Regions from separate parts of the Homo sapiens genome. Here regions 1, 2, 3, 5 and 6 are each reported to be linked to region 4. The links are microRNA targets in miRTarBase. Many come from high-throughput screens and were not tested one by one. Region 4 holds a microRNA gene; each other region holds the end of a gene's coding sequence.
The links. Region 4 holds the annotated microRNA hsa-miR-125a-5p (UCCCUGAGACCCUUUAACCUGUGA, at 1,504-1,527, shown strand). A microRNA usually pairs through its seed, bases 2 to 8, with sites in the 3' UTR of a target mRNA and lowers its output. Matches are read on the target gene's strand: a 7mer-m8 pairs with bases 2 to 8, a 7mer-A1 pairs with bases 2 to 7 and ends in A, and an 8mer does both.

Region 1: the mRNA of TRMT2A is a reported target of hsa-miR-125a-5p. The part of its 3' UTR that is shown has no 7-base or 8-base seed match.
Region 2: the mRNA of MORC2 is a reported target of hsa-miR-125a-5p. Seed matches in the 3' UTR shown: 7mer-m8 at 1,394-1,400.
Region 3: miRTarBase lists ZFAND1 as a target of hsa-miR-125a-5p. Seed matches in the 3' UTR shown: 7mer-A1 at 1,697-1,703.
Region 5: miRTarBase lists RBM17 as a target of hsa-miR-125a-5p. The part of its 3' UTR that is shown has no 7-base or 8-base seed match.
Region 6: miRTarBase lists IL1RN as a target of hsa-miR-125a-5p. The part of its 3' UTR that is shown has no 7-base or 8-base seed match.

Annotation. Positions count from the first base shown.
Region 1 is chr22:20,110,108-20,113,178 of GRCh38, forward strand. TRMT2A (tRNA methyltransferase 2A) reads right to left here. Exons shown (of 12, transcript NM_022727.6): 10 at 3,011-3,071; 11 at 2,804-2,900; 12 at 1,768-2,687. The coding sequence ends at 2,456. It overlaps DGCR8 (DGCR8 microprocessor complex subunit), which reads left to right. Exons shown (of 14, transcript NM_022720.7): 14 at 1-1,765. The coding sequence ends at 1. Among named protein-coding and RNA genes, the nearest start is that of MIR6816, 3.1 kb to the right of the region's middle. RefSeq lists an enhancer at 1,871-2,370.
Region 2 is chr22:30,924,352-30,927,351 of GRCh38, forward strand. MORC2 (MORC family CW-type zinc finger 2) reads right to left here. Exons shown (of 26, transcript NM_001303256.3): 26 at 779-2,520. The coding sequence ends at 2,452. It overlaps MORC2-AS1 (MORC2 antisense RNA 1), which reads left to right. Exons shown (of 2, transcript NR_026920.1): 2 at 378-2,303. Among named protein-coding and RNA genes, the nearest start is that of MORC2-AS1, 3.5 kb to the left of the region's middle.
Region 3 is chr8:81,700,077-81,703,187 of GRCh38, forward strand. It overlaps ZFAND1 (zinc finger AN1-type containing 1), which reads right to left. Exons shown (of 8, transcript NM_024699.3): 7 at 2,893-3,048; 8 at 1,261-2,789. The coding sequence ends at 2,619. Among named protein-coding and RNA genes, the nearest start is that of SLC10A5, 6.6 kb to the left of the region's middle.
Region 4 is chr19:51,691,765-51,694,894 of GRCh38, forward strand. MIR125A (microRNA 125a) reads left to right here and starts at 1,490; the gene lies at 1,490-1,575. SPACA6 (sperm acrosome associated 6) reads left to right here and starts at 1,566. Exons shown (of 9, transcript NM_001316972.2): 1 at 1,566-1,976; 2 at 2,714-2,791. The coding sequence starts at 1,763. It overlaps SPACA6-AS1 (SPACA6 antisense RNA 1), which reads right to left and starts at 1,692. Exons shown (of 2, transcript NR_108100.1): 1 at 870-1,692. MIR99B (microRNA 99b) reads left to right here and starts at 848; the gene lies at 848-917. It also overlaps MIRLET7E.
Region 5 is chr10:6,114,983-6,118,112 of GRCh38, reverse strand. It overlaps RBM17 (RNA binding motif protein 17), which reads right to left. Exons shown (of 12, transcript NM_032905.5): 11 at 2,802-2,874; 12 at 666-2,660. The coding sequence ends at 2,557. Among named protein-coding and RNA genes, the nearest start is that of RBM17, 28 kb to the right of the region's middle. RefSeq lists a silencer at 2,021-2,221.
Region 6 is chr2:113,132,506-113,135,635 of GRCh38, forward strand. It overlaps IL1RN (interleukin 1 receptor antagonist), which reads left to right. Exons shown (of 4, transcript NM_173842.3): 4 at 151-1,509. The coding sequence ends at 366. Among named protein-coding and RNA genes, the nearest start is that of IL1RN, 6.5 kb to the left of the region's middle. RefSeq lists a silencer at 2,962-3,111.

The sequences.
Region 1 (3,071 bases), not on the chromosome of region 4:
AGGGAGGTGGCACGGGCCAGGGCGCGGGGGCCGCCAGCCGCACTTCTGAGGAGACCAGCAGTCATGCATCGTGCACCACAGTGTCAGGCCTCCAACCCACGCTCCTTCCCTGTGGCCAACCTGTGGGCCCGGCCTTAGGGTGGAGGCTTTAGTGTACAGGGACAGCCATGGCCACACAGCACACATGTGGAGCAGCGGCTCTCCCTGGAAAGCTCCAGGCCTGAATGGATGGACTCAGCGACTGCACCAGTGGCAGCTGGTGACTGTGGACAGTGGTGGACCCTGCTTCTGTGCACCTGCTGCAGGCTCTTTTTATGAAGGCTTTCATGAATTTTAGTATGTAATACGCACTGACGACACATGATGCTTGGATGACAGATGAGAGGGGATGGCTGAGTCCTGTGGCTGGCCCGTGATGCCAGGTGGCCCATGTGCCCAGGGCGCCTGCAGGGCTGCTACAGGGACCTGGTCAGGAGGTGCACATGGTGCCCTGCCCTCACCCACCCTCTGTGTTTCCCCTTCTTTGAAAAGGTAGAAGAGAAAGGAATATTTTAAACCTTTTTGGCTTAAACAGAATTTTAGCATCAGAACTAGCTTTCTGGGATTGGAGGCAAACCATCAAGGTGGTCCCTCTCCAGTCTGGACACGATGCCAGCAAGGATGACGTCCTGCCACCTCCTGGAGTTACCCTGGCCTCCTAGGGTCCCTTTTTCTGATGAAGTCTTAATTCCCTAAAAGCGCCTCTTTGGACACTGAGGCCCTCTCTGCCTTTCCTGGCCTCCGGCAACAGTTTTTTACAAAGATTTTTTGCAGTCGAGTCCATATGTCCACCCATTGATTTTTAAAGCTTTTGTGATATTTTAGCATTTTGAAAGACTTTCACAGTGAGAGTAGAAGGTAGATTTGGAATCATGCATTTTAGCAAGTGGACTTGTTGAAACAGGAAGCAAGGGCCTTCAGTGTAGCCCATTCTTGATCCAGAGCTGTTGCCTGTGACAGCGGTTTCTCTGGATGTCAAAGGCAGCTGCCTGGTGCCCAGCTTGCTTCTCGACTGGTGGCCCCTATGGGTGGGTGTGCGATGGAAATGTGTTCCTGCCGGAGTCTGAGGCACCAGGGTGTGCTCAAAGGCTGGCCCTGGTGGTGGACTGGCACCTGTGCAGAGTGCCGTGTGCTTGTGGTGCGCCATCTGAAGCAAGAGTCCAGCGTTCTGCCGTGTCTGTCCCCCACCATGCCCCCTACAGGCGGTACTGATGGCGCTTTTTTTTTTTTTTCTGTCAGGAAAACAATGTTGGCCTGTGGGCCGCCCACAACATATCCTTCCCTCACTACCTGTGTGACCAAGGTTGGCTTCTGTTGACCTTTAAAAAAGAAACCCTCAACTCAAATTGCTATAATTAGACACTTGCTTCTGTCTTGCCTCCTGTCTGCAGCTGTGAATAGTCATTTGACTGTGACTGTTGCCCTTAGCCAGCCAGATGCGCCTGTGAACCAAAGCTTCGTGCACATGTGTTCCCCTAAAGGTTGGGGAGCCTCGCTGTGTCTTGCTGTTCCCAGGCACCACCACAGCAGGTGCTGCCATACTCTTGTGGTCTCTGTGCGCCCCCCCCCCCCCCCCACCCGTCTGCCAAGCATGGGTATGAATCGTGCACACAGCCATGCTTCAAGGCCGGGGCAGGGGAGCCTGTGCTGATGCCATCCAGGGCACTGGGCTGTGCCTGGAAGGCGAGCCTTGATTGTCTGAACACATAAAGCAAACTGTCCAGAAGGGAATGGCTGATGTCTTTATTCTGAGGGTGAGAGGCTGGCACCCTGTGGACCCTTGACTGGCCAGATCCCCTCCTGGGGCCTCCCTGCAGGCTGGACCCTGCCTTTGTAACAGCTGAGCAGCACCCCAGCATGGCCCCTTCCTTGGTTGATGCCCTCTCTGCTGGGCTGAGGGCCAGGCTGGCCACAGAGGGGCCAACTCTGCCCAGTGTTCTCCACCCCATGCCCCCAGCTGGTGCAGTTCCCAGACCTCTCTCTGCCTCTCCTCAAGTTTAAGTATCAAATCGAACATTCTTTTTTAAAGTAAGCTCTGCCCTGACTCCCCCAGCCATGCAGAGAGGCTTGCAGAGCTGCCTAGGCCTAGTTTGGCCCTTTCCCTGGCACCCAGGCCCTGTGTTCAGACCCCTGGCTCTCATCACAGAAACACCCTTTGTTGAGCAGTTGTTTATTCTGGCCCTCACAGCCTTGGCTAGTCCACAAAGGCCCTGGGGATGGGCAACAGGCTACAGGAACCCACCTGTCTTCCTGGTCAGGGCCCCTGGCCCCTAGCAGCAGGCCAATCCTGGTGGGGCACAGGGTTCTGTGCCCTTTGGCTGCCTACCTCTGAATATCCTGGCCAGCAAGCCATGCCTTCCCCGCCCCTGGGGCCCTGGGAGCCCTTCAGCTCCTGTCCCCATAATGGGTCCTGGGCCTAGGATGAGGGGAAGGTCCCAGTTTCTTGTAGGGTGTTATCTGGGGGTCCTGGTGTGGGTTGAGCTGGAGGGCTGTGGGGCCCCAAGACCCCTGTGCCATTGGGGTGCTCCACCCTCTCAAACAGGATGAGCATCTCACAGTGCGGGGTCTGCGGGAACAGGTCCACTGCCACAGCCTTGACCGGCCGGAAGGGAATGCCCTTCACCCGGTTAGATGGGGCTCTGCAGAGGCTGTGGGGGGAAAAGGGGGGCGCTAAGGTCAGCCGATAGGCTAATCAGGGGCTCCTGTGGGAGCTGGGGGCTTGGTAGCAGGCCTAGCCCCCACCCAGGCCCCTGCAGACACTCACTCCACAAAGTTGCCCATGGCTGCCCGGGGGTTGCATGAGACGTACAGCAGCCGCCTGAGGTTCTTAGCTCTCCGGATGGCCAGGATCACCTTGGAATCTGAGGAGGCAAACACCAGCTGGGTCCCCACAGCCAGAGAGTGCATAACATGGTGAGCCACCCCATGTGTCCTCGTTCCCGTGCCACCTCCTTAAGCAAAAGCCACTCACGCAAGCCAGCACGGGGTGGGTCCAGGATGGCCACGAGGTGCTGGGAGGCCAGTCTGCTCAC
Region 2 (3,000 bases), not on the chromosome of region 4:
TTCACTTAAAAACCAAACACCCTAGGTGAGGCATGGTGGCTCACACTGTAATCCCAGCACTCTGGGAGGCCGAGGCAGGTGGATCACTTGAGCTCAGGAGTTTGAGACCATCCTAAGCAACATGACGAAACTCTACCAAAAATACAAAAAAAATTCGCCAGGCATGATGGTGTGTGCCTGTGGTTCCAGCTACCTGGGAGGCTAAGGTGGGAGATCACTTGAGCCTGGAAGGCAGATGTATCAGTGAGCCAAGATCGTGCCACTGCACTCCAGCCTAGGTGACCAGGGCGAGACCCCCATCTCAAACAAAACACCCTAGAGTCCCCACCCCTCTCGTTCTTTAAACACCAGCATTGCTGCCCTTCACTTTCTTGCAGCCTTGTGCAAAGGACCTTCTCACCACAGATCAGCCAGACCATCTTCCTCCTTCCAAGTCATCAAAGAGTTCCAAGCTGGTCACCTGTCCCTTGATGTTCCCAGGAAACCAGGAAAGAGGACCCCTGCATTTTATCTTCCCATCCAGAGTGGCAGGATCTCTGCCTGGGAAACAGGCTTCATTCAGCACAGCTGTGGTAGCATTAACAAAGCAAAGTGGGCACATGTAGAAGTTGAAGCTAAAACATTCAAGAACTCCAGTCTGTTTCTGTGGATGTTAAGGGGGTGAAGATAAAACAATGGAGGTGATGAGGAGGAATAACTTGAAGACAGTTTAAAGCCACAGTGATACAAAGAATGAAGAGAAGGAAGGTGCTGGATTTTACTAAGAAAACAGACTGAGTTCAGGAGTCTCACCAGTAGAACTTTATAGTATTGCGTTTCGATTACATGTGTGTGAATTTTAAAAACTGATTACCCTCCAGTAAAAATGTGGAACCAATTTGCATTTGGATTAAAACATTAGGTTTGGGGACAAAAGTGGACCCCATGCTGCCTGAGATGAAGAGAGAGAGCAGGATGGCAGAGGAATCACCAGCTCAAGAAACCCCAAGACTTGGACAGTCTTCCAGCAGAAGAGGCCAGGGTCTCTCAGTGTACTACTCCAAACAGGCCTCTCCTAGAGATGTAGTCTGGGAAGGTCCAAAACCCACCAGACAGGCACATCCAGTGGGGAAAAGACTTCCCATTCCAGTGTGGCCTGCATCCCTCACCTCTGCTTCCCAGTCTTCTGCTGACCTCAGAGGAGCAGGGTGGCCATTGCTGATCTGGGTTAGGGAGATGCCAGAAACACACCCAGGTTTGAACCACAGGTTAGTGGTACAAAGTCACAGTCCTTGTGCCTTCAGAAAACCCAGAGGCCCCAAATACGAGTGGGAAGAGAGTTGGGAAAAACTGAACCAGACTCTTCCAATGGCCATTAAAGAGAAAATTCAGCAACGCTTGCCTTTGTCTTTGACCCTGAGAAGTTAAGGGACACAGATTGTGGCGCCGTGATGGAACATGGAGGGAAGGCATGGTGTGCTTCCTGCAGAGATGCCTCTGGAGTCCCTGTGGCCACGGGATCTCACTGGCCCCCTCTTCAGGCACCTTGATGGGGCTCAGTGGGGCCAGGCCGAAGGGTGGAAGTAGAAAAGCATCAACAGGCTGTCCAGATCAATTGGCACCATCCAAGGCCCTGCTGCACCCACACATGGAGGTCACCAGCTCAGCCCCAGGGGTTCTTTCACACACAAGCTCCTTCCCTAAGGAGTCCTGTGGGGTTCCACACTCAGTGTGCTGCCCAAGTCAGAGATTTACCACAGATCTGTCTCCCCCTCAACCTGGACTCAAGTTACTGTGGTGAGAAACCTCACTGTCCATGGTTAACTGAAGAAATCCCTCCTTCAGAAAGAACTTGAGTAGTAGATGAGGTGGTTAGACAGGATCTTTTTCCCTCAAGCTGTTTGGACGCCACAGCCAGGACCAACTCTGACAGCTGCGAGAGAGAGAGCCCCTCCAATGTGGAACCTCCTACACAGCCCCCCTTTTGGGTCCCTGGATATGAGCCCCCAGCAGGACCACCACTCTAGGGGGAAGTCTCCCTCCCATCCCTCAGATCCCCACATTGTTCCTCCTGTAGGAGAAAAGTCAGCCCTGCCCCTGGAGCTTCTCCAAGATGGCACTGGACTCGCCGTTATCTTGAGGAGCCAGGAGCTGAAATGGCTCCGGCTTAGCAACCCAGTATGGCCAAAGTGGAAAGGTTCTCTGTCCTTTGCAGTCACCAAAAAAAAAAAAAAAAAAAAAAAAAAAAAAAAAAAAGTATGGTCTCACAGGCACAGCATCTTCTTTTAAAAAATAAATATTTATAAACTTAAGGAAGATTCAAAGAATCAGGGTATCTTTTCCTCCAAAAACACAAATGTCCCGTGTAAGTCAAACCAAGGTGCGACCACCAACCCATGAATGAAGTCCCCTCCCCCTGCAGCTACAGGGTTGAGGGGCAGGTGGGCAGGGGAGCTGCTCTCTCTCCTGCCTTCAGTCCCCCTTGGTGATGAGGTCCTCAATGTAGGCGTCCAGCTCATCATCTGTGTTGATGTCTATGTCCTGGAATAGAGCAGGGTAGGGATCAACTGGGGGCCAGAAAGTGATTGGGGGGCTCACCTTTCCACCCTTCTCTCAGCTCCTGGGATGGAGCCCAGAGTCCTCTCCCTGACCTCCCACCCCGCCCTGGATGTCAGGCTTCTGTCCTGTCTTAATCACTCTCCCCTCCCTCATCTATTGTGCACAGATGATGCCCAGATTTCCTACGCCCACCCTGCCTCTACCCCATGTTCCCAATTGTCTTAGATGTATATTTCCCTCAGATACTACAAATATGCCCACTTCTCTCCCTTCTCTGTCACTGCCCAAGGTCCAGGCCACCACTGTCTCAGACAACTGTGGGAGCCTCCTCACAGGAGGCTCTGGTTCTAACTTTGACCCCTCCAGGCCTCCTCCAACCAAGCAGGTACATGTCTGAGACTGAAAACTGCATCATGCCACACCCCTCCAGTGATCTCCACTGTTCTCGGGATCAAACCCCAC
Region 3 (3,111 bases), not on the chromosome of region 4:
TCAGATTAAATCAAATGCAGTCTTTTTTGCTTTGTCACCAGGCTGGAGTGCAGTGGCATGATCTCGGCTCACTGCAACCTCTACCTCCCAGGCTCAAGTGATTCTCCTGCCTCATCCTCCCCAGTAGCTGGGATTACAGGCGCCCACGACCACACCAAGCTAATTTTTGTATTTTTAGTAGAGACAGGGTTTCACTATGTTGGCCAGGCTGGTCTCGAACTCCTGACCTCAAGTGATCCACCCGCCTCGGCCTCCCAAAGTGCTGGGATTACAGGTGTGAGCCACCACGCCCGACCTACCAGAGCCATTTTTCTAATAGCATGCATTTACTTTGTGTATCTGTGTCACAGTCTGGTGAGTCTCTCAATATTTCAAACTTTTTCATTATTATTACATCTGTTTTTGTGATCTGCAATTAGTGATCTTATAATTGTAGATGTGGTGGAATTGGCAAGAAAACAAGAAGTAGAAGTAGAGTTTGATGATGTGATTGAATTGCTGCAATCTCTTAACAAAAGCTGAATGGATGAGGTGTTGCTTCTTATGGATGAGCAAAGAGTGGTTTCTTAAGAGGGAATCTCGGCCGGACATGGTGGTTCACGCCTGTAATCCCAGCACTTTGTGAGGCTGAGGTAGGCAGATCACCTGAGGTCGGGAGTTTCAGACCAGCCTGACCAACATGCAGAAACTCCGTCTCCACTAAAAATTCAAAATTAGCCAGGTGTGGTGGCGCATGCCTGTAATCCCAGCTACTCAGGAGGCTGAGGCAGGAGAATCACTTGAACCTGGGAAGCGGAGGTTGCAGTGAGCCAAGATCACACCACTGTACTCCAACCTGGGCAACAAGAGTGAAACTCCACCTCAGAAAAAATAAATAAATAAATAAATAAAATAAGAGAGAATCTCCTCCTAGTGAAGATGCTAAGAACATTGTTGAAATGGTAACAAAAAATTTAGATATTCCATTATCTTAGTTGATAAAGCTGTGGCAGGGTTTAAGAGGATTGACTTCAATTTTGAAAGAGGTTCTACTCAGGAAAAAATGCTATCAAAAGCATTGCATGCTACACAGAAATCTTTCATGAAAAGAAGAGTCAATCAATGTGGCAAACTTCACTGTGGTCTTATTTTAAGAAGTTGTCACAGCCACCCCAACCTTCTGTAACTACCGCCCCAATCAGTCAGTAGCTATTGAAATTAGGCAAGACCCTCCATCAGCAAAAACATTACAAATTGTTGAAGGCTCAGATATTATTAGCATTTTTTAGCAATAAAGTATTTTTTTACTTAAAGTATATACATTTTTTAGACATAATGCTATTGCACATTAAATAGACTATAGTATAGTGTAAACATAATTTTTATATGCCCTGGGAAACAAAAAAAAATTTGTCTGGCTCAATATACTCCAATATTTGCTTTGTGTGGTAGTCTGAAACTGAACCCACAATATTTCCAAGGTATACCTGTATGTATACATATCATCATTGTATTAATCATGGCAATTAGGACAAATCCCTACATTTAGTGGGAACTCAAATAACTATGCTAATGAATGAAAGTACAAGAACATAATAAAAGTTGGAAATTATCTCCATTCCTCACATAAAAATAATATGAAGAATTAGAAAGGAAATAAACCAAATGAGCATTCCAAATTTATTCCTTTTAAGTAAACCTATAGCCACTACATATGTCCCTGACAATTAGAACAGAAAACAAAAAAAGGACAAATAGAAATACTTTCCATTCTGTCTATATAGTAGTAGTTTTGGGGGTATAGATAGTAAACACTAGTCAAGAATACTCGTCTAAATATGTTGGTAAAATGTAGTCATCATTTGGCATGTGTTTTGCTTTGGTATATAATGAAGTTGAGCTATCCCATCTTTCTTCTCTATGGAATATAGTCACACAAACAAAAAAGATGAATCTCACTAGAGGTGGGTCTTTATCAGAAATATGCCCCAATCTAGTTAGGTAATAGAAAGAAAATCATTTTCTCCTCCTAGGCCTAAGATTCTTCATGTAAAAATTATAAGACTGAATAAAGATCACTTCTAAGTTTCTATAATTCATGTAGATATATCAATTTATACATCATGATGTAGACAGACAGCAAGGCTATACTTTCTGGCTCCATGATGCTAGGCTTGGCCACATGACTTGCTTAAAGCACGTATGATACATGCATCTTTTAAGAGAAAACCGAAGTGTATTTCATCTCTTTCTCTCTCTGCTAAAACAATCACAATGTCCCAAAAGAGATCCCTTCCTTTGCCTTTGATCATGGTAAGAAGATGACACAAAGCAGTGTCACAGCCAATCAACAGCTGACATCCCCCACCAGGAAATACATCTTTGTTGTTGTCACTACAGCATAAACTAATGAAAGCTAATTAAATATAAGAATTTGCTAATAATTGAGGATCCGTACACAATTAAACTTAAAACCAAAAAACTCTAATAGAAAACTCATAATTTAAAATGTGACATAAGGGGAAATAAGTTAAAAAGCAACTTTTAAAAATTACAAAAATAGTATTTGTAGTAAAATAAATGGACTTAAACATGTAATAGAATTTTCCCTGTGATTTCTGACTTGAATCTTTGAATGACTATTCCAAGTAAGATTCAACATTTTTACAGAATTGTTCTTCATCATTAAGATATTCCAAGATTATATTTCCACCATTATATAAAGGACAATCCTCCTTAGCAATCCAGGTTTCCAAAGTATGATCCAAGGGTAAGGCTTCTCCTGAAGTAATGTGACACAGCCTTAATTTCTGTGAAGGGAGAAGTAAGTCATACTGTAATAAATAAACATGCTTGAATGGAGCATCATAAAACCTTTATTAATATAGAAATATTATTATAATGAGATGTTACCTTAGCTGTAAATTTGTTATTGTCATTTTTAAGCCTGGCTAGAGAAGCGGCAAAGTCTATGGCCTTTCCAATGCTCCATCGGTGGCAAAAGAACATTGGTTTGCTCTTCTCTTTGCTCCCTTTAGGTAAGAAAACCTGAAAGTAAATTCTTTCTGTCTGTAAAAAGAAAAAGTTAAAACAACCATTACATAGACAAAATAGACATCAGTTTTTGTCTGG
Region 4 (3,130 bases):
GGCACGGGAGAGACCCCAGCTGGAGGGGCTCAGAGCCCAGGGGTGGGGAGGGTGGGTGCTGGGTCCCGGGGTCCAGAAGCTGGAGAAGGCTGGGGACACCTCCTGGATTCAAGAGGGAGGACAGAGATGGGGCTGGGCAGACTTTGGGAGCCTCTTCCCCTCTCTGAGGCTCAGCCCCCTCACCTGCCAAATGGGGATGCTGAGGGCACCTCGCTCTCTGGAGTGGGAGGTGTCAGGGAGAGGACTGGTGCTCAGGGCCTGGTATGGGGTCAGCGCTGGGAGATTGTGGCTGTCATAGTTGTAAATGACCCAAAGAAGGGAGGAGAGAGGAAAGAAAGCACCTAGGGAGGCTCTGATGGTTGGCTAGCCCCTGGCCTCCTTAGCCCTGGGCCTGGAGTCTCTGCAGACTGACAGGAGGGTAGGTAGGAAGCAGGTGTGCCCAAAGGGCCAAATTACGAGACAAATGAGGTTCCCTCCCAGCCGGCACCCAGGAAGCCAGGTTTTCTATCAGGCCATGCCTTCCCCAGGAGGCCTGCCTGGCCGGAGGGAGGAGGGGCTGGGGGCAGGGACTCCTGGGTCTCTGGGGAGAAGGAGGCTTTGGATCTGGACTCATGAGTCTGAGGGAGGAAGGGGCTGAGTCCTTGGATTCCAGGAACATTTGGGGAGAAAAGGGCCAGAGGCCTGGATTCCTGGGTCTGTGGTGAGGAAGGGCCTAGACTTCTGGGTTCTTTAGGGAGGAGGGGGATGAGAGCCTTGACTCCAGGGTCCCTGATGAGGAAGGGGCTGAGGGCCTGGACTCCTGGGTTCCTTGGGGAGGAGGGGCCGGGGGCCCGGACTCCTGGGTCCTGGCACCCACCCGTAGAACCGACCTTGCGGGGCCTTCGCCGCACACAAGCTCGTGTCTGTGGGTCCGTGTCGGGGGCTCACCATCGCGGCTGGGGCCTCCCCGGCCCTCCCCCTCATCCCTGGTCCTCCTGGTCCCTGTCTGTCTGTCTGTCGGGTCTGTCCACCTGCCGCGCCCCCCGGGCTGAGGTAGGAGGTTGTATAGTTGAGGAGGACACCCAAGGAGATCACTATACGGCCTCCTAGCTTTCCCCAGGCTGCGCCCTGCACGGGACGGGGCCCGGCGGGGACCCCCAGCCCCACTCAGGGACCCTTAGCCCCACTGGGCTGCCCCAGGGACCCTGGGAGGAAGAGCCGGGCTCTTTTCTGTCCTTGTCCCTGCATCCCCTCCTTCCCCTGAAATCTGTTTTCCTTCCCTGTCTGTCTCCATCTCTGCTGTGTCTCTGTGGCTTCTGTGTCTCTTTCACAGTGGATCCTCTGACTCCCTCTTATTCTGGCTTTCTAGGTCTCTGCCCCTCCCGATATCTCTCTGTGTCTCTATTTCTGTCGTTTTTGGTCTTTCTGTCTCTGGCTCTCAGAATGTCTCTGTGCCTATCTCCATCTCTGACCCCCACCCCAGGGTCTACCGGGCCACCGCACACCATGTTGCCAGTCTCTAGGTCCCTGAGACCCTTTAACCTGTGAGGACATCCAGGGTCACAGGTGAGGTTCTTGGGAGCCTGGCGTCTGGCCCAACCACACACCTGGGGAATTGCTGGCCTGACTTCTGACCCCTGACTCCTCATACCCTTCCTCCAGAGCATGACATTTGACCACCAACTGAAACCTGACCTCTGACCCCAGACCACTGGCCCTTCCCCCGCCCTGTGGTGACTTCATAAAGGTTACTAGCTTCTCCCCTGGCCTTGAGACCCACACGATGGCCCTGCTGGCTCTGGCCAGTGCCGTCCCGTCTGCCCTGCTGGCCCTGGCTGTCTTCAGGGTGCCCGCCTGGGCCTGTCTCCTCTGCTTCACAACCTACTCTGAGCGCCTCCGCATCTGCCAGATGTTTGTTGGGATGCGGAGCCCCAAGCTTGAAGAGTGTGAGGAGGCCTTCACGGCCGCCTTCCAGGGCCTCTCTGACACCGAAATCAGTGAGGAGACCATCCACACTTCATCAGTGTCCTGGGGAAGGTGCAGAGGGAGGGCAGGAGAGGCCCAGAGGGTCAGGCTGAGGGACAGACAGAGAGAAACAGTCAGAGGAGAAAGGCTCAAAGACCATGAGAACAACAGAGACTTAGGGACAGAGAGACACAGACAGGGGAAGACAGCAGGGCAAAGACTCAGAGAGGGGAGGATGGAGAGTCAGAGAGGGGAAGATGGAGACTCAGAGAGGGGGAGGATGGAGACTCAGAGAGAGAGGAAGATGGAGACTCGGAAAGATGGAGACTCAGGAGTATGGAGAGTCAGAGAGGGGAGGATGGACACTCGGGAGGATGGAGAGTCAGGAGGATGGAGACTCATAGAAAGGGGAGGATGGAGAGTCAGGAGAGGTTGGAGACTGGAGAGGGAATAGAGACCCAGAGAGGGGAGGATGGAGACTCAGAGGGTGGAAGATGGAGACTCAAAGAGGATGGAAACCCAGAGAGAGGAGGACAGAGATGAGGCAGAGACTAGGGGAAGCAGGATAGCGACTGGTCGGGGGCAGAGACTCAGGGAGGATAGAGACTTGGGAGGGACTCAGGAAGCATAGCGACTGTGGGGCAAAGAGTCAGAGAGGGGAGGATACAGACTTGGGAGGGCAGAGACTCAGAAACAGAATGTTCGCATTAGGGACATGGTGTTGCGGGGAGCTGCCTCCCCCAGCCCCTGCTCCCTCCCTCACCGCCAGACTATGATGAGAGAAGCCACCTGCATGACACCTTCACCCAGATGACCCATGCCCTGCAGGAGCTGGCTGCTGCCCAGGGTGAGTGTGTGGGGATGGGGAGATGGGAGATGTGGACTTGGAGCCCCTAAGAAATGGGTATGTGGGAGGGCCCAGGGCAGAGGAAGGAGGCCCCCAGAGTTGGGCAGTGATCCGGGAGGGGAAAGCTGGGAAGACATTGAGCTCAGCTACTTGTCCAAACGAAGGCTGAAGGCAGCTCTAAGAGCCAGGGGCTGAAGGTGGTGAGGGGGAAGGGACGCTGCAGAAATTGCCTAGAGCTGGAAGTCCAGATGGGGTCGGGTAGGCATAGGTTCTGCCATGGCTGCATGGCTCACACTCTTACTGGCTATGAAGTTCTGGGTGTGTCACTGCCCCTCTCCT
Region 5 (3,130 bases), not on the chromosome of region 4:
CCCAAACCCCTCCATAGACTGCTCTGCCAGATACCACACACCAGCAGAGGTGACAAGGTCTCTGCCACTGCTGCCCCCAGTGCCACACAACACTGTGCAGAGGAACCCTTGCCAAAGTCAGACGACAGACTCTTCACACAGCTTCTCTCCCACACTGCGGTGCCGGTCTGATCAGAGATCCCAAGCGCACAACCCTACTCAACCTGCAAGACAGGCTGGGAAAGCAAGTTTCTAGTCTCTTGCGGGGAGGAGGGAAACAAGGAAGTTCCCCACACAGAAAAAGGCGTTTCAGGCTGGGCTCGGTGGCTCACACCTGTAATCCCAGCACTTGGGGAGGCTGAGGCGGATCACGGGTCAGGAGATCAAGACCATCCTGGCTAACACGGAGAAACCCCGTCTCTATTAAAAATACAAAAAATTAGCCGGGCGTGGTGGCGGGCGCCTGTAGTCCCAGCTACTTGGGAGGCTGAGGCAGAAGAATGGCGTGAACCCAGAAGGCGGAGGTTGCAGTGAGCCCAGATCATGCCACTGCACTCCAGCCTGGGCGACAGAGCAAGACTCCGTCTCAAAAAAAAAAGAAAAAAAAAGAAAAAGGGGTTTCAAAAACTCACAGATGGGCCACCAAGAATGACAAACGTCTATTACACGGAAACTTGCCAGTTACATTGTAGCTTACATAATTTTTAATTTTTATTGAAATTTAAAATTTTTATATTAGCTTAAATGTTAATATTGAAAATTAATTTCAAATTTCTCAAGTACTAACTTGCAGGAGATTTAGAAATTATTCGACTATCAGAAATTCATTATAAATAAAGCACTAACTGATTAACACAGTTATTTTAAAAATAAAAGACTGGGGAGAAAGGCACACACCAAGCTGTCCTCATGCGAACGGAAATCAAGTAGTATGAGTTGGTTGCAACTCTCTGGTTGCTGACCATGAGAATGTTAGGAAAAGCCACCCATTTAGGTGCAAACAATGTTTTACAAAGCATAACAACAATAAATGCATGCATGAAAGGTGGGTTGGAACCATTAGTTTCTAAAATTAAACAAGCACACTCCGGTACTTGTAAGCACAAACATGGTTTCCACTTGAGGAATGGTATGCCTAATTCCATAGATAACTGAAGTTCCAGGGCTGCTTTTGATTCTGTCTTCCACAATGTTCAATTATGTAATTTACCTCACATTCCTTAACCCCAACTTACTTTACAGAACAGGTGCACTTTTATCATAAAACTCAATTTTATTCAATAAAATAATACCACAAAAGATAAAATGTTATTCTTTTATTTATGTTAAATAAAAACATGAGAAAATCCTTTTTTAAAAAGGGTCAGAATATTCCTTATGTCTCCAAACCAAGTCCATGGATGCAAAGAAATGCTGAGTTCTTGATACACTTTCATGTCATAATAACCAAAGGAGACAGCACGGGCTCGAGTCTTTCAGCTGCCGCTTAGGAAAGTCACATGCAGTATTTGGGAAAGCAAGGAACAGAACACAGGCATGAGTATTTTCTGGAAATACCTCCTGCCCTGGCAATGAACCTCAGTACCAAATATTTTTGTTTTCTTTTTTGTGGTCCTGATAAATTTTTAAGCCACACATCCTACTGAACTTCAATGATACAATTTCTCACAATTCCAGAATTCTATTGGCAGTACAGTTTACTTGGCCAACGTGGATAATCTTATAAATTTTAAAATTACATACAATAGAACACTATTGCAAATTTTGCCAGTAGAAACATGACCCCAAGGAACTGCCATTTCCAAAACATAACTGGGCACACATTTACAATGCACCTGCTAGGTTTTGAATTCATTTGTCATTTCTGATCTACCCTTAAGACTATGCTTGAATCTCTGAAAACAAATGCTAGATTCATGATTTCTATACCCACATACTCCATAAATCCATCACAAACCCTACAGTCTGATTTAGCCTACGGCAAATGATTCATCCAATAGGCCATGGTATGTTCACAATTCTTCAATCTTATTCAGGTTGTAAAGACGTTTTTCTACGACTGGAGTCACTAAGAATTTCTCTGTTAGAGAAAGCATCATTTTCACCTTTGGCACACTGCCAAGATGATACTTTACTACAGAATTTATGAAACTACAATTTAGTAACTTGCAGGCTTTATTAAAAGAAAAAGAAAAACAAAGAATAATTTAATATAACCCCATGTCCCAAAACTTTCTAGTTTTTTTTTTTTTTTTTTTTTTAGTGCAAGAAATGCTGCATCATTGAAGCACTTGAGAATTACCATGAAATCTAACAAAAAATGTCATCAACTCAGGAGTAATAATAAAAAAGAGAAACAACCAGAGAGGCACACAGATTGTTGTTTTTTTAAAAGGATTTTTATACTATATTAAAAAACCACAAAATAAAAAAGGGATCAATCAACATATATCTTAGAAGTCCTTCCAAGAGTCTTGGTATGCAACAGCCATGGAGGCTGTGACCTTTTTCCTTCTTTTCTCAGCCTGCAGTTCATTTAAGGATCACCGGAGATGACTCGTGCTCTAGTTCTTAAAATCAAACTTGTTCTGCCAAATCCAAGACCCTGAATTTGTCCAAATTGTAGAAACATGCTTTTACCACCCGTCCACCAAAATACCTCCCATTCAAGTCAACAACCGCTGAAAGGCAAACAAAAGACAGTTAATACAGGTATCCTATAAGATAAAGGTTTAACTTTAATTAAACAGTAACTTTACTTGTAAAGATTAAGGCTGTAAATTCAACTTTTTTATTCTTTAATATTTAGCTGTACCACTAACCTTTAATTGCTGATTCAACTCTCTCAAATTCTAAAAATATCCGTACTGCTTCATCATCAGGGGCACCAGGAATCTGGAAGAAAATGAGAGCGTGATGAGTAAAGGCATTTGAGATTGCATTGAATGAGTTTTCTCTTTTAAATGATTTCTCAGAGTGGATATTCTAATTATCATCATATACAGTCAAGTAGTTGTCAAATACCAAGGAAATAAGTATAATTTGTTCATCATCAAAAACGTACTGAATGCCTGTTTTTATGACAGGCATTGTTAGGTGCCAGGAACACAGGGCTAGGCAGTCTCTGACCTCATAAAGGCCCTGTGCCAGC
Region 6 (3,130 bases), not on the chromosome of region 4:
CAGGAGCACCTGGGGGCTTTTAGGGTATGGCATTTCCCCTGTACTAACTCTGGGCTGTCCAGAGGGCCATTTCATGGCGTGGAGTGGAGAGGGAGGCAGCACAGGACTTCCTAGGCCTCAGCTCTCACCTGCCCATCTTTTGATTTCCAGGCAGTTAACATCACTGACCTGAGCGAGAACAGAAAGCAGGACAAGCGCTTCGCCTTCATCCGCTCAGACAGTGGCCCCACCACCAGTTTTGAGTCTGCCGCCTGCCCCGGTTGGTTCCTCTGCACAGCGATGGAAGCTGACCAGCCCGTCAGCCTCACCAATATGCCTGACGAAGGCGTCATGGTCACCAAATTCTACTTCCAGGAGGACGAGTAGTACTGCCCAGGCCTGCCTGTTCCCATTCTTGCATGGCAAGGACTGCAGGGACTGCCAGTCCCCCTGCCCCAGGGCTCCCGGCTATGGGGGCACTGAGGACCAGCCATTGAGGGGTGGACCCTCAGAAGGCGTCACAACAACCTGGTCACAGGACTCTGCCTCCTCTTCAACTGACCAGCCTCCATGCTGCCTCCAGAATGGTCTTTCTAATGTGTGAATCAGAGCACAGCAGCCCCTGCACAAAGCCCTTCCATGTCGCCTCTGCATTCAGGATCAAACCCCGACCACCTGCCCAACCTGCTCTCCTCTTGCCACTGCCTCTTCCTCCCTCATTCCACCTTCCCATGCCCTGGATCCATCAGGCCACTTGATGACCCCCAACCAAGTGGCTCCCACACCCTGTTTTACAAAAAAGAAAAGACCAGTCCATGAGGGAGGTTTTTAAGGGTTTGTGGAAAATGAAAATTAGGATTTCATGATTTTTTTTTTTCAGTCCCCGTGAAGGAGAGCCCTTCATTTGGAGATTATGTTCTTTCGGGGAGAGGCTGAGGACTTAAAATATTCCTGCATTTGTGAAATGATGGTGAAAGTAAGTGGTAGCTTTTCCCTTCTTTTTCTTCTTTTTTTGTGATGTCCCAACTTGTAAAAATTAAAAGTTATGGTACTATGTTAGCCCCATAATTTTTTTTTTCCTTTTAAAACACTTCCATAATCTGGACTCCTCTGTCCAGGCACTGCTGCCCAGCCTCCAAGCTCCATCTCCACTCCAGATTTTTTACAGCTGCCTGCAGTACTTTACCTCCTATCAGAAGTTTCTCAGCTCCCAAGGCTCTGAGCAAATGTGGCTCCTGGGGGTTCTTTCTTCCTCTGCTGAAGGAATAAATTGCTCCTTGACATTGTAGAGCTTCTGGCACTTGGAGACTTGTATGAAAGATGGCTGTGCCTCTGCCTGTCTCCCCCACCGGGCTGGGAGCTCTGCAGAGCAGGAAACATGACTCGTATATGTCTCAGGTCCCTGCAGGGCCAAGCACCTAGCCTCGCTCTTGGCAGGTACTCAGCGAATGAATGCTGTATATGTTGGGTGCAAAGTTCCCTACTTCCTGTGACTTCAGCTCTGTTTTACAATAAAATCTTGAAAATGCCTATATTGTTGACTATGTCCTTGGCCTTGACAGGCTTTGGGTATAGAGTGCTGAGGAAACTGAAAGACCAATGTGTCTTTCTTACCCCAGAGGCTGGCGCCTGGCCTCTTCTCTGAGAGTTCTTTTCTTCCTTCAGCCTCACTCTCCCTGGATAACATGAGAGCAAATCTCTCTGCAAAAAAGATATGGGGCAGCACTGTCCACAACAGCCTCTGCTGGAAACAACCCAAGCACCCATCACAGAATGAATTAGTACATCATGTATCTGCACACAACACAGTGCTCCTTGGCAAAGAAAATGAATGAATTACAGCCAGCTGCACCTCACAAGACAGATAATCTTACAAACATCATGTGGGTACAAGAATCACAAAAGCATGCATAGAGTGTGATTCCATTTCTACAAAGTTCAAAACGGGCAACATGGGGCTGTTGTGTGGAGGGCTGTGGAAACAGGTGGTGCAGAGAGAAGCAAGGCCATGCTCTGTCTGAAGGCCCAGTGACACTTGGCCCCTGCGAGAGAGAGTGGCAGGCAGGAGCACCTGGGGGATTTTAGGGTCCAGACAACATTCTATTTCTTGGCATGGATGCAGTTAGGCGGTTTTCTGTATGTATATTTTATTTCACAATACCTAGAAAATAAAAAGACTTGCCCCCCAACAACCAGGGTGTAAAGAAAGGAGCATCTGGGAAATTATGAGATTAGTGAATGGAGTATTGAATTTGTCCCCATAGGTGGGAGTGCAAGACCATGAGTGACCACTTATCAAACACACCTCAGTAAACAGTCAGGAGAGTGAGGAGTGTGGTCCTTTCACCTGCCCAGGTTGTTTCTGTTAGATTCTGGGCTTGGTCTCTGGAGTCCAAGAGGCAGGCCCCAGTGAGGTCATGCACTTGCTGTCTGATTTTGGCCAAGTCACCTCCCTTTGTGGGGACTGTTCCTCATTTGTTTGAGGGGAATGTTGATTTGGATGGGGATTTTCCAAACAGAGCTCCTTGGACCCTTCCCTCTAAGGTCTCTGGAAATGGGAAACCCTGCAGAGGGGAGGATAAATGGGCCAGGATTCATCCCTTGAACCCTGTTCCCAACAGAGCCCTCTGTTTTTCTCTTCTTTACAACTTGGACCTCCCATGGGACTTTGTTTGAAAGGGAGACTTCATTGCTAAAAGCAAACTAAACTAAATAGGCTAAAAGGCAACAAACTGGAGAAAATGTTTAAGGTCTTCTCTAGATCTAAGATCCTATGACGTTGAGGAGGTCATCCAACATCTCTGAGTTTTCTCTTTCTTGTATATAAAATGGAAGTAGCTGGCAGGGCAGGGCATGTGTCGTTGATATATTTTTAATCCTGGTAAAAGGAGGAGGTTCAAGGCAGAAAACTCATCAAAGCTTAATGACAACAATAGCAGCTAACATTTGTGAGGCTCTAAGGTAAAACCCAAGGCTAAGACTCTTCATGCAAACTAGGTCAAGCAGCAAGCTACAGGTTAGAAACAGGCAAGGCAGCAAAACAGTCACATGGGTGAACTCTGGGACTCTGCAGTCACACTCTGACTCTCCTGCTTGCACTGGGTGCTCATAAGCAAGCTAGTTAACACCTCAGAGCCTTGGTTTTCCCACC